Linked DNA regions of Homo sapiens. The protein of the gene in region 1 interacts with the protein of each later gene in a pairwise test. Each region holds a gene or a part of one and is shown in the gene's direction. Other genes may lie near its edges.

Region 1 (7,029 bases):
CACTCCATTTGGTACTTCTAAAGATCTAATGAAATTGTGTGTGTTGACACTGCTTTCATGGTTGCAAGAGAAAAAGACAGTGAAATCAAAGCATCTATCATAAATGCCTGACACATAGAAGATACTTTATGACAGCTATTTGTTATTCTTGTATATAAAACTAGCTTTAGGCTGGGCACGGTGGCTCATGTTTCCAATCCTACATTTTGGGAAGCCAAGGTGGGCAGATCGCTTGCATCCAGGTGTTTGAGACCAGCCTGGGCAACATGGTGAAACCCTTCTCTATGAAAAATACAAAAATTAGCCAGGCATGGTGGTGCACATGTATAGTCCCAGATACTTGGGAGGCTGAGGTGGGAGGATCATTTGAAGGTTGAGGCTGCAGTGAGCAGTGATCATGCCACTGCACTCCAGCCTGGGTGACAGAGCAAGATCCTGTCTCAAAAAATAAATCTAGCCTTTTCATTATATTTCTCTTACTACACTTCTATCTCTTATTTTGAAGTTTTGTTTTAGTTCCTGAGTATTGACTCTCCAGATTCCCAAATACCAATGTCCTGTACCAGATTCTTGGTACATGGACCAGATACTTGAACACTTAAAGCACTGTTGGTGTTGTACTTTGAGAGACACAGTGTAAGAGCTGTCATTTGTTTGCCAGCTGGTTATTTAGCTAGAGTGGCAATACCTTGCCTTGATAAAGTTACCGCTTTTCAGGTTGTAGCTTCTGCAAATCATTAGGGGTCTTGGAATTGATTTATCTTTCAGAAATAGATTCACAAACTCATTCATAACCAGAATATCCATTTGTAATGGGAAATAGAAGTTTTGGATGACAGTTTCTTCCTAGTTCTTCCTAAGAAAATCTTTTCAAATGATAATCATTAATTTCTTCCCACACATGGATTTTGAGTGATGCAGGTTAATTGTATCATCTAATCCAGTCTGATTTACCCATATCCATTGTAGCAATGTGTTTAACACATGAGCTAGACTTACTTCTTTCCATGACTGCTGGAGAAACATAAACCATGTCTTATTTCATGATTACCCTTTTTTTTCTAGCTTCTAAACTGATTGTTTTCTGACTGTTTTGCTTCAGACCATGTGCATTGTATGTGGGTGTGCATGAGTGTATAATATGTTCACATGATTTGGATTAAATTTTCTTTTTATAATCAGAATTCTGTTATGTTTCCCTGATGCTGTGCATTTCTTGTTTACTGGTTAGAGTGAGTAGTTTGTATAGAAAGCTGATTTCATTTCATTGTGTATGGACATTTCTTTTTCATCCACGGAGGGTCTGATTTTTGTGGGGATTGAGGGAAGTCCCTGCCCAAGGCACCATGGTGTATTGATATGAATATGGGCTTTTGGAGTTAGACTGTTTAAATCTGGCTCTACTACTTGTAACTTGTGTGATTTGTGAAGAAATGCTTAACCTGTCAGCCTCTGTTTTCGCATCTATGAAATGGAAATAATATAACAAGTCCGTATGATAGATGGTAAGGATTTCATGAGATGATTTTATATGTAAATGGAGATAACCATAGAGAAGAATATATGGTTAATGTAGTCCATTATCATTTCTGTATATTACTACTGGTTTGTTTGTGTTTTTTTTTTTTTTTTTTTTCATGTGTTCGGGCTGAGCTCTGAATTTTCGTCTGCCTTTCTGGGTTTGTTAACTTATAGTCTATTTCTCATTGTTCTATTTCTCCACCCTCAAGTTAAGTATGGTACTCTTATTAAGAGTGGGCATCCATGCATAGCGTTAACTGTCATTGTGCATATACTGAATTGATTGCAAAAAGAATAGTCCATGTTAGACCAAGGCCACTTTTTAATTATACTTAAAGATCTTGTTGTCAGCAATTATAACTGGTTCATTTTATAGAAATACTTAAAAGATTGGGATATTCCTAGGTTTCAGAAATATTTTCAGTTTTACTTTTTATGATCCGAGAATTCGTAACACAGCTTTTATTCTTCACTATAGAATGAATACTCCACAGATTTGTGGATTATAGCCTGGGAATCAGAAATATCACTGATTCAGAGATTACCTTTTATTTTGATTTATTTAGGAAGGCGACATGCCAATTCATGAACTTCTCAGCCTTTATGGTTATGGTAGTACTGTTCGACTACCTGAAGAAGATGAGGAAGAGGAAGAAGAGGAAGAAGAAGGTGAAGATGATGAAGATGCTGATAATGATGACAACAGTGGCTGTAGTGGGGAAAATAAAGTAAGTCTATATACATATATTTAAGATTGTAGTCTTTATTCTTGTTGAAGTTAAAATTGCTTAATATATTTTGATTACTTGTCTTTATAATCTTTTCCTGATTTTAAAAGTGTTAAAAATTAAGATATTACAGAAATACATAATATAAAAATTGGAAATCCCCTGTAATTTACTCCTGAGGTAACAGTTTGGTCTTGTCATTTCAGGTTTCTTTTTTTCCAGTGCTTATTCTAATTAATTTATACCAACTTTCTAAAAAAATGCTATTGCTTTTAAATAATAAAGGCTAATTGGCAGTTTGTGTTTATTTTTCTTACTTTATTTTGAAATAATTTTAGATTTATAAAAGGTTTAAAGTTAGTATAGAACGTTCCTGTATACTCTTACCTCAACTTCTGCTAAGGTTAACATCTTGGTACAGTGCTATTAACTAAACTGCAGATTGAATTATACCAGTTTTTCTGCTAATGTACTTTTTCCTGTTGCAGGAACCAACCCAGAGGATGATACTACATCTAGTATATTCATTTTAGTCTTCTGCATATATTAGAACAAAATTTATATGCTATGGTCTTTCATCTGCAACTGTTTTCCTTACATCTTAGAGAAATTTAATTTATTATTCCACAGGAGGAGAATATAAAGGATTCATCAGGTCAGGAGGATGAAACTCAGTCTTCCAATGATGATCCATCACAATCTGTTGCTTCTCAAGATGCCCAGGAAATAATCCGCCCACGTCGATGTAAATATTTTGATACAAGTAAGTGTTACTGGTTGATAATATTTGAATATAATTTTTACTATTTTAGGTATTACCTAAAATCCTCTTTTTTAAACTGGTCTTTGAATTCATTTAGTCTGAAATTCTTTTCAACAGTAAATGGATTTTGTTGTAAGTTATTAGTTTAGCAATGCAGGGTCCCTGTTGTTAGTGAATATACTATGGTAATTGTGTCATGTACTACTTGACTTTGGGTGTATTTGTTTTTTCTTTGCCCTGTTTTTAAATGTTTGTTTCATGGTCATCTTTTTGTTTCTCATAGTCTTTCCCTTAGTTTCCATTTTTTACTTTCTTTGCCTCTTAGCCTTTTTTAGGTATATTCATAAATACACCTAAATTTCTCTACTTTAAAAGGAAGAAAAACACTTGAAGAAAAATAAACTGTCATGAAATATGTAGTAAGATAATATTATCTTTATTCTAAATCAGTTTTTTCCCCTAAGTTTTTATAGGAAATCATTTCATGAGAATACAATTATGTAGAAAGTTTATGGTTTTTTTGGTTTTGTTTTTTTAAGTGATAGGGTGTTAATTATTTGGTTAGAAATATCTTGGCTTAATTCATTAGATATCTTTGAGCATATCCAAATATTTGATGGTAGATGTAAAAATAATATGTAGATTTAGACAGGATAAGCAGTCATTTTATAGTATTGGTGTCTTATTTATTCTAGATAGTGAAGTAGAAGAAGAATCTGAAGAAGATGAAGATTATATTCCATCAGAAGACTGGAAAAAGGTAGTTAGAACAATATTTTCCCAAAATTTAGATAAATTAATATTTTTTTAAAAAGCCTCGTGTAATTATTTTTTTTTTTACTAACTATGTATATTGATAAAATCGATGTAAGCCCTTTTATGACATTTAAATGTTTGGTAAATGTTCAGATTCCTTCTTAACACATCTAGGTTAGATTAGAAATCTACATTTCTGGCGGGGTGTGGTGGCTCACGCCTGTTATCCCAGCACTTGGGAGGCTGAGGCAGGCGGATCGCTTGAGCCCAGGAGTTCGAGACCAGCCTGGGCAGCGTTGCGGGACCCTGTCTCATTTTATAAAACAAAACAAAAAATAAATAAAACAGAAATCCACATTTCTGATTTAGTCCTGAACTAGTGCCAAATTAGGCATTTGTTGCCCTGTAAAAAGTATCACGTATATGTTTTTCAATATTATGGAAAGCATTTGTGGAGGCTTTGATATTTGTTAAGTAAATTTTGTTTAGTAGTTCATATTGCAAGTTTTTCATTCTGTATTACTTTATAAAAGAAAAACTCTCCAAATGATTGAATTTAATGTTGACATTTACAACTGATAAGCTTATTATATGAAGAAACAGATTTGGCTTCTTCGTAACTATATACAATTAATTTCTGAAATGAATCTAAAGATAATATATTGAGATTAGTTTTTAATTATAAAATTATATAGCATATAATTAATCATACAGTTAAGTTAAAGAATTGTAAGTTATTGTAAAAGAACTGAGCTCTTAGGAAAAATCTATCTAAACATTATGTAGAATTAGCTGGTTGCAGTGATGTTTCCCCTGTTGTCCCAGCTACTTGGGAGGCTGAGGTAGGGAGAATCACTTCAGCCCAGGAGTTTGAGACCAGGCTGGGCAACATAGTGAGACCCCATGTCTTCAAAAAAATTTTTTATGTAGAACTGGTTAAAACAAAGAAATAATGTTATTTTTGTTGAGAGACAAGGTTAGCCCAGTTTACGGTATGTGTTAATTTGAGCAAATGATGGGACTCGACAGAAAACAAGAATCACAAAAGTTAATTTGTGTGGCCTATTTGGGCAAGGGTTCTTTCATCCTGTTTTTAATCTGATTCCTACAGTGTGCAGAAATTAAGATGAAAAAAGCTAGAAACCTTGGGAGTCCTTATAAATTGCTGTCCCACTTCATATTCAAGTTTATGTATCTTCAACATGTGTTGTTTTTTAATCTGGAGTGTTCAGTAGAGTATTTGATTAAGCATTCAGTGTTTTTTTTTTAAATGAAAGAACAAAAGCTCAGAGGTAGAACACCTCTCATTGCTGGAGGGTATTAATTACCCACACCTTACTCAGAAAGGGTATTAATTAACCACACCTTTCTCAGAAAAAAATTATGTAATAAAGCAGGCCAGAGTAAATGCAGATTGTTTTCTTTCAGTATGATTTTGTTGTTTTAAATAATTGTCAAGGTTCAGAGATTCATTTTTTTTTAAGACTTATAAGATGAAATTGAGTTTTTATAGAAACTTAAGGTAGGGGAAACAGTTTTGAAGTCAAACCTGAATTTTAGTTGTAGCTCTAGAACTTAGTAATTGTGTGCTCCTGAGAAAATCAAATTTTTGAGCTTCATCTTCTTACATATAGTATGGGAATAACAATGTCAGCCTTATGGGGCTTGCTGAAAGATTAAAGGAAAATTGCATATATGATATGTTAACACATAATGATCTTCAAAGCTATTTCCCTTCCCTTCCCTGTACTACCGAACAAATTAACAGATGAAAAGAAATGTTCAGAACTGAACAGGAAAAAGGAAGTACCTATCTTTAAACTAATCCAGATGTTCTCAACCCTGTTTTTATGTTAGAATCATTTGGATAACTTAGATGTACTGACTACCAGGGCCTTCATTCATAGATTCTAATTTAATTGTCCTGCAGTGGATCCAGGCATTGATGGTTTAGAAGCACCCCAGCCAGGGTTAGTAACTTGACAATGTTCTTTGGTAGGCCTAGGTGAGTTAAGTTAAAAGAGGCACAAGATGTGACAATAAAGGACTCTTTTTATAGTAGAAGACATAAAGAGAATTCCATTGTAAGGGTAGAGAAAATTTGTTGTAAGTTTGATTCTTTTTAGAAAACTGATCATGAGAAAGATTGGTTTTTCTTATGGGTATAGAAATAACTTTATTACATAAAGCACGTCTTTGAAGTTGTACTGGATAAAATGAGCTCCTCACATCAGTGAGGTAACAATAGCAGGAGAGAGACTTTCCAAATCCTAAGAGTTACCAAAACTTCTAGACCATGATTTTGTACCTTTCATGCCCAATTTTGAAAATGTCAGTAAATGTGTTCTTAACATTTAGCCATCACACAAAAGAGGGTTCATGTAATCTTGGTCTCCTTGCATTGTGAAATTTCACCAGTGGTAGTTTGCAGTTGCTTTTGAGAACATCCAGTTTCACCTAATCTGTGATTTGACTGTATAGATATGATTACTGGATTTCCTATTTAATTATATTTGTGGGAGGAGGTTACTTTTTCATTTTGTATTGTTTTAATGAAAGTCAAGCCATAACCTGCTTATCTATTTCATTTAGAGTTTCTTTCATTTGGCCCCTACTGAGCTTTATACAAACCCTTTTTGTTATTTTTCCTACTTTGAAGCTCTGTTTTTCAGACTTCAGTCTATGTCAGAATCACCTAGAGAGCTTGTTAAAATACCAATGACTGAGTCCTGTCCCCAGAGTTTCAGTAGGTTTGGGGTGGGACCTGAGCATTTGCATTTCTAACAGTTTCCCATTAGCTGTGTGTGGTGGCATGTGCCTGTAGTCCCAGCTACTCAGAGACTGAGGTGAGAGAATTGCTTGAGCCTGGGAGGTCGAGGCTGCAGTGAGCCATGATCACTCCAGCCTAGGTGACAGAGCAAGACCCTGTCTCAAAAAAACAAAAATTTCATAGATGACACTGATGCTGCTCATATAGGGATCATATTTAAGACCACTGTCTTAAGTGTAGATACTCTGAAAATATCTGAATTTGACTTTGTGTTTTACATGTTTTGCAGTTGTCTTACTAATGGAATTATCAGAATTCACTTCTTTGTCTCTATATTTTGAAATAAAGTTTGTATTTATTGTTTACGTTGCATTTCACCTCAGTATTATTACTAATATTTTCATCCAGTCATTATTTGTCATTCATCTTCACAAAGGTACCTCTGAGGTAGTTAATTGGTTGTTTTTGTATTTTATGACAGAGAAACCAGG
Region 2 (7,029 bases), on another chromosome or scaffold:
GGTTCAAGCAATTCTGCCTCAGCCTCCCAAGTAGCTAGGACTACAGGCACGTGCCACCACACCTGGCTAATTTTTGTATTTTTAGTAGAGACAGGGTTTCACTATATTGGCCAGGCTGGTCTCGAACTGCTGACCTCGTAATCCACCTGCCTTGGCCTCCCAAAGTGCTGGGATTACAGGTATAAGCCACCGCGCCCAGCCTGTGGTGCGTGTTTCACAGCAACCAGGAGGCTGTCAAGAAAATTAATATTACCTTATTGGGTGCCAAGGCAACACTGTTTGGTGTTCAGAGCTGATTAAAAACAACAACAAAAAAGATATTATAGGAACAATATTTAGTGTGATAAAATATACAGTCTAAACCAATAGTCCCTTCCTTAATGATGAAAGGATAAAATCATTGCCAGAACAAAGGCAGCGTGTAATTTTTAGAAAGGAAAAAATAAGTTGTTATTTGCAAATGATATGTTGTATGCTTAGACAAAAACAAATAATTAACTGAAAATTGAGAGTGAATTTAAGGATTTGTATGCTGGTGAGACCAGGTAAATGTGCACAGTTAGAAGTGTCCCTGTGGGTCCTTGATAGCCAATCAGGAGAGCAATGATGTGGTGTGACGAGTCATTCGGCTGCCCCTGTTTTCCAAGCATGACTGTGTCCCCAAGCACAGGGGTCCTGCTGGGGCAGCTCTCCCTGACTCCAGGATTCATAAGTCCCTGCCTGGGGCTTGTACTGAGTCACTCAGGTGGGGTGTGAGTAGGGGGCTGGGGAGTGGTTTGTTTGTAACCTTTTCTGGTGGCTTCTTGACCAGGTGGGAGTGTGGATTGATGTTGGCAGCCGTTTTGAGACTGAGAAGAATAATGGGGCAGGCTACTTTTTGGAGCATCTGGCTTTCAAGGTGAGGCTCTTAAAGTCTGTCTCCTCTGGGCTTAGGGCTGCCTGTTGTCCCTCCTGAGGATGAAGGTCAGAAAAATTAGCCTGATTATGGGCCTCAGTTGCGGGGCTGATGTCTGGCTGGCTTTCCTAAAAGGAGCCACATGAGCTTAACCTCTCCTGAGTGGGCACGTATCTGATGAGCCCCTGCCTGAGGCCCTCAGAGCCAAGAGGACCCAAGGAACCATAGGAGCCCCACTTTTCACCAGAGAAGCCAGGCCTGTGGAACACACGTAGATATGCACATGCATTTTAACAAACCCACAGACATGGGCATGCATGCTTGCTTATGAAATGTTCTTCTCTGGTGGAATATCTAGGCATCCCTTGGTTGTAAAGACCCATGTTTTTTAAAGGAATGAAAAACATGGAGAAGGATTATGGGGTGGGCAGGGCCATGGAGCCATAGTAGGCAACCTAGCCAGCTGCAATGTCACAGGTATGTGTGCAGAATTAACGTGTGTGTGCACACCAAGAGATAGCACCACTGTTCTCCACACACAGGACTAGGATTGGGTCCCACAGAGGCCACTAGCATGTATTCACAAACATACAGTCATGGGAATGGCATGGGAGGAGTGGGTTCTATCACTTGAACACAGGTGTGGGCTTACCTGACCATGGCTGTCAATAAGGAGGGGGGAGGTGTACTGGTAATGATCCCCACAGCTTGTTGGTAAGCTGTTACAGGAGCTTTAGGCAACACTTGCTCTGGCCATGCCCTTCAGTCCTGGCCCTGGCTATCTCTGTTCTGTTGGCGCATGATGCCATGGTTTTGGTCACCTCAAGGCCTGCTTAGTGCTTGGTAAACAGACTCTGGGATCTGTGTCCCCAGAGTCTATGCTGAGGGAGGTACCTGTGGACCAGTGGTCCTGCTGGGTGTTTAGCCTCTGAGGACAGGGTTCTTGGGTTCCTGTGTAGCTCCTGATTGTTCTGGTTGATATCTGGTTCCAGGGAACAAAGAATCGGCCTGGCAGTGCCCTGGAGAAGGAGGTGGAGAGCATGGGGGCCCATCTTAATGCCTACAGCACCCGGGAGCACACAGCTTACTACATCAAGGCGCTGTCCAAGGATCTGCCGAAAGGTAACACCTGGAGGAAGAGGCGGGGACAGAGGGCAGGGAAGCAGAGGACAGCTACCTAGGAGCCCCTGGCTGACCACAGAATCATATTACCCTTAGCGTATGGCTTTGCAGCTGGGCAACTAGGGGTGGGCAGCAGGAGATGCCAGGCCTGGGGATTTTGTGCTGTCGTTGGTCTGCAGTGGTCCACCTGGCACCTAAACATGTCCTCCTTGCATCTAGCTGTGGAGCTCCTGGGTGACATTGTGCAGAACTGTAGTCTGGAAGACTCACAGATTGAGAAGGAACGTGATGTGATCCTGCGGGAGATGCAGGAGAATGATGCATCTATGCGAGATGTGGTCTTTAACTACCTGCATGCCACAGCATTCCAGGGCACACCTCTAGCCCAGGCTGTGGAGGGGCCCAGTGAGAATGTCAGGTGAGAGTTGGCTGGCCTTGTGGGGGGATGCTTGCTCCATTCTGGCCTGGCCAGACCCTTTCCAGGTCACATTTTTAGTTGGCTAGCTGTCGGGGTTATTTTCCTGAGTTATGCAACTGGAGACAGTTTCTGTATCCATGTGGTCCAGTGAGTCTTTTTTAATGGCTTTGTGGGCTTCACTTGAATTTTGGGCTTTGTTTTAAGGTATGTTTTGGTGCATGTCCTGACAGTCCAAGGGCGAAGTGTCTGGGTGTCCCCTCCATGTGGTCTCTTGTCTCCTTTGTGGATGGCTCCGGGAGCTTTGATGCTGCCCTTTTGAGAGTCCCACAGTGTTGGCTCACGCCTTCTCAGAGAAGACTATGAGCCTGTCCTGAAGTCAGGCATGAGGCAAGGGCAGACAAGGGTTGCCCTCTGGGCCCTGGAGGGGTGGGTGGCAGAGACAGGGGAAGGGGGTTGGGGAGTGTGCTAGGGCCCACTCTTCGGAGAAACCATGCCTCTCCTAGTCTGCCTCCTCAGTCCCATTCATGCATGTACCCCAACTCACTCCAGTGTGGTAGAGGTGTTGACACACTGACCATATGTCTTGTAGGAAGCTGTCTCGTGCAGACTTGACCGAGTACCTCAGCACACATTACAAGGCCCCTCGAATGGTGCTGGCAGCAGCTGGAGGTGAGTGATGGAATCACTGAAGTCCTGGGTAGTGGGGTCCCAGCCTTGGTTATCAAAGCCGAGGTCCTGGTTCCCACCATAGGGGACCTTTCACCCCAGGGGACTCTGCTCCCACCCTAACCTTGAGGGGAATGACCTTCCTCCTGTGCTCTCTGAGGTGGGATAGGATTCTACCCTGCCGCCACCACTGGGACTGGTTACACAGGATGCTGTCCCTCTGGTACAGGTCTGTCTTAGCCCCACCTGGTTCTAGGATACTGAGTTCATGGGCTGGTAGGGGATGTAAGCTCCTGGCCTTGTTCCTTGTGGCCTTGCCCTTGGGAGAGCCAGCCATTAGTTGTGTGTTGATGCATGCCTGATAACAAACCAAGAAGTGCCTTGAAAGGAAGGCACAGAAGGGTGGGGAAGATTTCACTGGGGACTCAGAGTTGGAGTTTGGGGGAGGGGCTTTTTAAAGCACCTGTAGTTTGAACAGAAGCCTGAAAGGTGGTGAGTGTTATTTAGGTGGGGTGTGGGGAGCTGAGCGCAGGGGAAGAGCAGTGTCATGGTCTAAGGTTTGCTCTGCTGCTGTGTGGGGTCACAGTGCAGGTAGGCTGGCTAGAGAGGGGCTGTGGCAGGGACTGGGCAGGAGATGGCAGGAGCAAGGGGGAGCAGTAGATGGACTCCAGGTGGTTTTATAGATGGAACCTGGTTGGGGTCTGGACATGGGTAAGGAACTGAGGTCAAGGTGCTTCCCATCTTGGCTGGTCGTGGTGGCTCACGCCTGTAATCCTAGCACTTTGGAAGGCCGAGGTGGGTGAATCACCTGAGGTAAGGAGTTCGAGACCAGCCCAGCCAACGTGACAAAACCCCGTCTCTGGTAAAAATACAAAAATTAGCCAGGCTTGGTGGCAGTTGCCTATAATCCCAGCTACTTGGAAGGCTGAGGCAGGAGAATCCCTTGAACCCGGGGGACGGAGGTTGCAGCGAGCTGAGATTGTACCACTGCACTCCGGCCTGCACAACAGAGTGAAACTCCATCTCAAAAAAAAAAAAAAAAACAAACATGCTTCCCAGCTTATGACCTTGGCGGCTGAGTGTGCAGAAAAGACCAATAGGAAGAGCATGACCAGGGGCTTTGGAGCTGGGGAACCTGGGGGCAAGAGCAATCTGACGTGTGTGTCAGACTAGCAGGGCTTGAGCTCATGGAAGGAAGGAATGAAAGGCCAACGCAGGCCGGGCGCGGTGGCTCACGCCTGTAATCCCAGCACTTTGGGAGGCCGAGGCGGGCGGATCACAAGATCAGGAGCTCGAGACCATCCTGGCTAACACAGTGAAACCCCGTCTCTACTGAAAATACAAAAAAATTAGCCAGGCGTGGTGGCGGGCGCCTATAGTCCCAGCTACTCGGGAGGCTGAGGCAGGAGAATGGCGTGGACCCGGGAGGTGGAGCTTGCAGTTAGCTGAGATTGCACCACTGTGCTCCAGCCTGGGCAACAGAGCGAGACTCCGTCTCAAAAAAAAAAAAAAAGGCCAATGCAACTGGTGGCACCACAGAGCCCTCCTCTTGTGGAGGTGAGGAGGCAAGATCCAAGGAGTCCTAGGGTATACGTTTGTAACATTATTTGCAAATGTCCCCAGCTCTCAGGGGACCCAAGAGCTAATCACAGCCCTGTAATAGCTCCTCTTTCTGCCCCCTCACTTGCCACCCCCTGCAGGGCCAGCAGCCAGAAATACTTGAGGGAGAGCTAGAGGGAAAAGGCAGGCCAGGTGGCTTTGTGCCCAGGAGTACCAGTCTTGTCCTTGATGTAGGTGGAATGCATCTTCTCAAGTGAGAACCCACACTTGGATCACATGGCAGCCCATTTTGAAACTCTGAACGCTTTTGCTCTCCTGGGACTGAGGCCATGGGAGCTATTTGGCCCTGAGGTGCCTGTCCTGTCCACAAGGCAGGGTCTGTCTGAGGAGGACCTTCTTTCCTCACCCTGTTCTAATGTCACATACTCCTGGTTTCTCCCACTAAGACAGGACATGGGGGTCCTCTGCCTGTCTGTGAATCGCCCCACCCTGTGCCTTGGGCCCTGGCTGGTCAGTAATGCCACTGTCTGTCTCAGCAGGAGTGGAGCACCAGCAACTGTTAGACCTCGCCCAGAAGCACCTCGGTGGCATCCCATGGACATATGCAGAGGACGCTGTGCCCACTCTTACTCCATGCCGCTTCACTGGCAGTGAGGTATGCTGCCTTTTGGGCAGGAGTAGTGCTCAGCTGGGGGCCTGTGGGAGGACCCCCATGTGCATGGTTATCCTGGTGACTCCAGAGATACCTCAGCAGTTGGGAAGGGGTTCTGTGGCTGCTGCATCACAGGCACACATGTTCACACACATACACCCTCTACCCACACCTGCCACCTTTTCTGTTCCCCTGGCAGTCTGGCTGTTCCTCAGCCTTGTCATGTACTGTTTCAGATCCGCCACCGTGATGATGCTCTACCTTTTGCCCACGTGGCCATTGCAGTAGAGGGTCCTGGCTGGGCCAGCCCGGACAATGTGGCCTTGCAAGTGGCCAATGCCATCATCGGCCACTATGACTGCACTTATGGTGGTGGCGTGGTGAGTGCCAGCGCGAGCATGGGACCTCGCCTTCAGGGAAGAGAGGGTGCTGGGGCTGTGTGCTCCTGTGCGTGGGGGTCACAGTGTGCGTTGAAGACAAGAGGGTGGGTGCTGACCACCTATCCCCCTGGCAGCACCTGTCCAGCCCACTGGCTTCAGGTGCTGTGGCCAACAAGCTATGCCAGAGTTTCCAGACCTTCAGCATCTGCTATGCAGAGACGGGCTTGCTGGGTGCACACTTTGTCTGTGACCGAATGAAAATCGATGACATGATGTTCGTCCTGCAAGGGCAGTGGTAAGTGGCAGCCTGGTATTCCTAGGTGGGATGGCGGCTTTAACCAGCACAGTGGGAGGCTGAGAGATGACACACTGGCTCAGAATGAATACCACCCACCCCCCCACTTTAGGATGCGCCTGTGTACCAGTGCCACGGAGAGTGAGGTGGCCCGGGGCAAAAACATCCTCAGAAATGCCCTGGTATCTCATCTAGATGGTGAGTCCTACAGCTCAGCGGGGAGGGGTAGAGTACATCTTGCCAGCGACAGCACCAAGGTGGCCACTGCTCCTAACTAACCAAGGTTAGAAAGGAAAACTTTGAAGACCACGCCATGCCCCATCACCCCACCCTTGGAGATGCAGGCAGGTGTGAGACAGGTCCACAGCCCATCACTGCCATAATAGGTGACCATAGAAGAGAGGGCTGTGATCTGAGTCAGCATGAGGTCAGGGAGGTCCTTGTCAACCTGAGGCTGGAGATTGTTTGTGTACCTGTGGGTCCAGGATTGGGCTGGGTGGACCTCTGAGCCTTCTCTCACCCTTAAAGGCACTACTCCTGTGTGTGAGGACATCGGACGCAGCCTCCTGACCTATGGCCGCCGCATCCCCCTGGCTGAATGGGAAAGCCGGATTGCGGTAACATGGACCCCTGGGAGAGGTTCTGGAGTCTTGGCCTGGCAGACACCTGGGAGGTGTAGGGTTGGGGCCTGGCATAGCGCAGCCTGCTCCTATAGGCATCCCTGGTGTCCTAGGCAGCTGTCACCTGCAGGGGTAGCATAGTGGGAGGGCAGGGCATAGGTGCTGATGGCTGTGGAGATGGGCGGGGCCCATGGAGGTCTATAGCAGGGATCCCTTCTGCCTTTCCTCTTTTGGGCTGGGGACAGCTGCATGCTGCCTGTGGGAGATCTCTGCTAGTTGGATGATGCTGACTGGCTGAGGTGGTGGCCAGGTGCCCGTTAGCCAGTATGCCCTCTGCCTCACCCTGCAGGAGGTGGATGCCAGTGTGGTACGTGAGATCTGCTCCAAGTACATCTATGACCAGTGCCCAGCAGTGGCTGGA

The links. The genes of interacting proteins can lie anywhere in the genome.
Region 2: the proteins of MIER1 (region 1) and UQCRC1 interact in binary tests that used the Homo sapiens proteins (3 or more experiments, as listed by UniProt).

Annotation. Positions count from the first base shown.
Region 1 is NC_000001.11:66,955,972-66,963,000, forward strand, and holds part of MIER1 (mesoderm induction early response protein 1), read left to right. Parts: exon of another isoform or gene 1-2,087; coding exon 2,088-2,249; intron 2,250-2,879; coding exon 2,880-3,012; intron 3,013-3,707; coding exon 3,708-3,772; intron 3,773-7,029. UniProt on the Homo sapiens protein: Transcriptional repressor regulating the expression of a number of genes including SP1 target genes. Probably functions through recruitment of HDAC1 a histone deacetylase involved in chromatin silencing.
Region 2 is NC_000003.12:48,599,639-48,606,667, reverse strand, and holds part of UQCRC1 (cytochrome b-c1 complex subunit 1, mitochondrial precursor), read left to right. Parts: intron 1-811; coding exon 812-898; intron 899-1,517; exon of another isoform or gene 1,518-1,748; intron 1,749-1,887; coding exon 1,888-2,017; intron 2,018-2,236; coding exon 2,237-2,435; intron 2,436-3,024; coding exon 3,025-3,104; intron 3,105-5,200; coding exon 5,201-5,316; intron 5,317-5,549; coding exon 5,550-5,693; intron 5,694-5,827; coding exon 5,828-5,988; intron 5,989-6,100; coding exon 6,101-6,186; intron 6,187-6,516; coding exon 6,517-6,605; intron 6,606-6,957; coding exon 6,958-7,029. UniProt on the Homo sapiens protein: Component of the ubiquinol-cytochrome c oxidoreductase, a multisubunit transmembrane complex that is part of the mitochondrial electron transport chain which drives oxidative phosphorylation.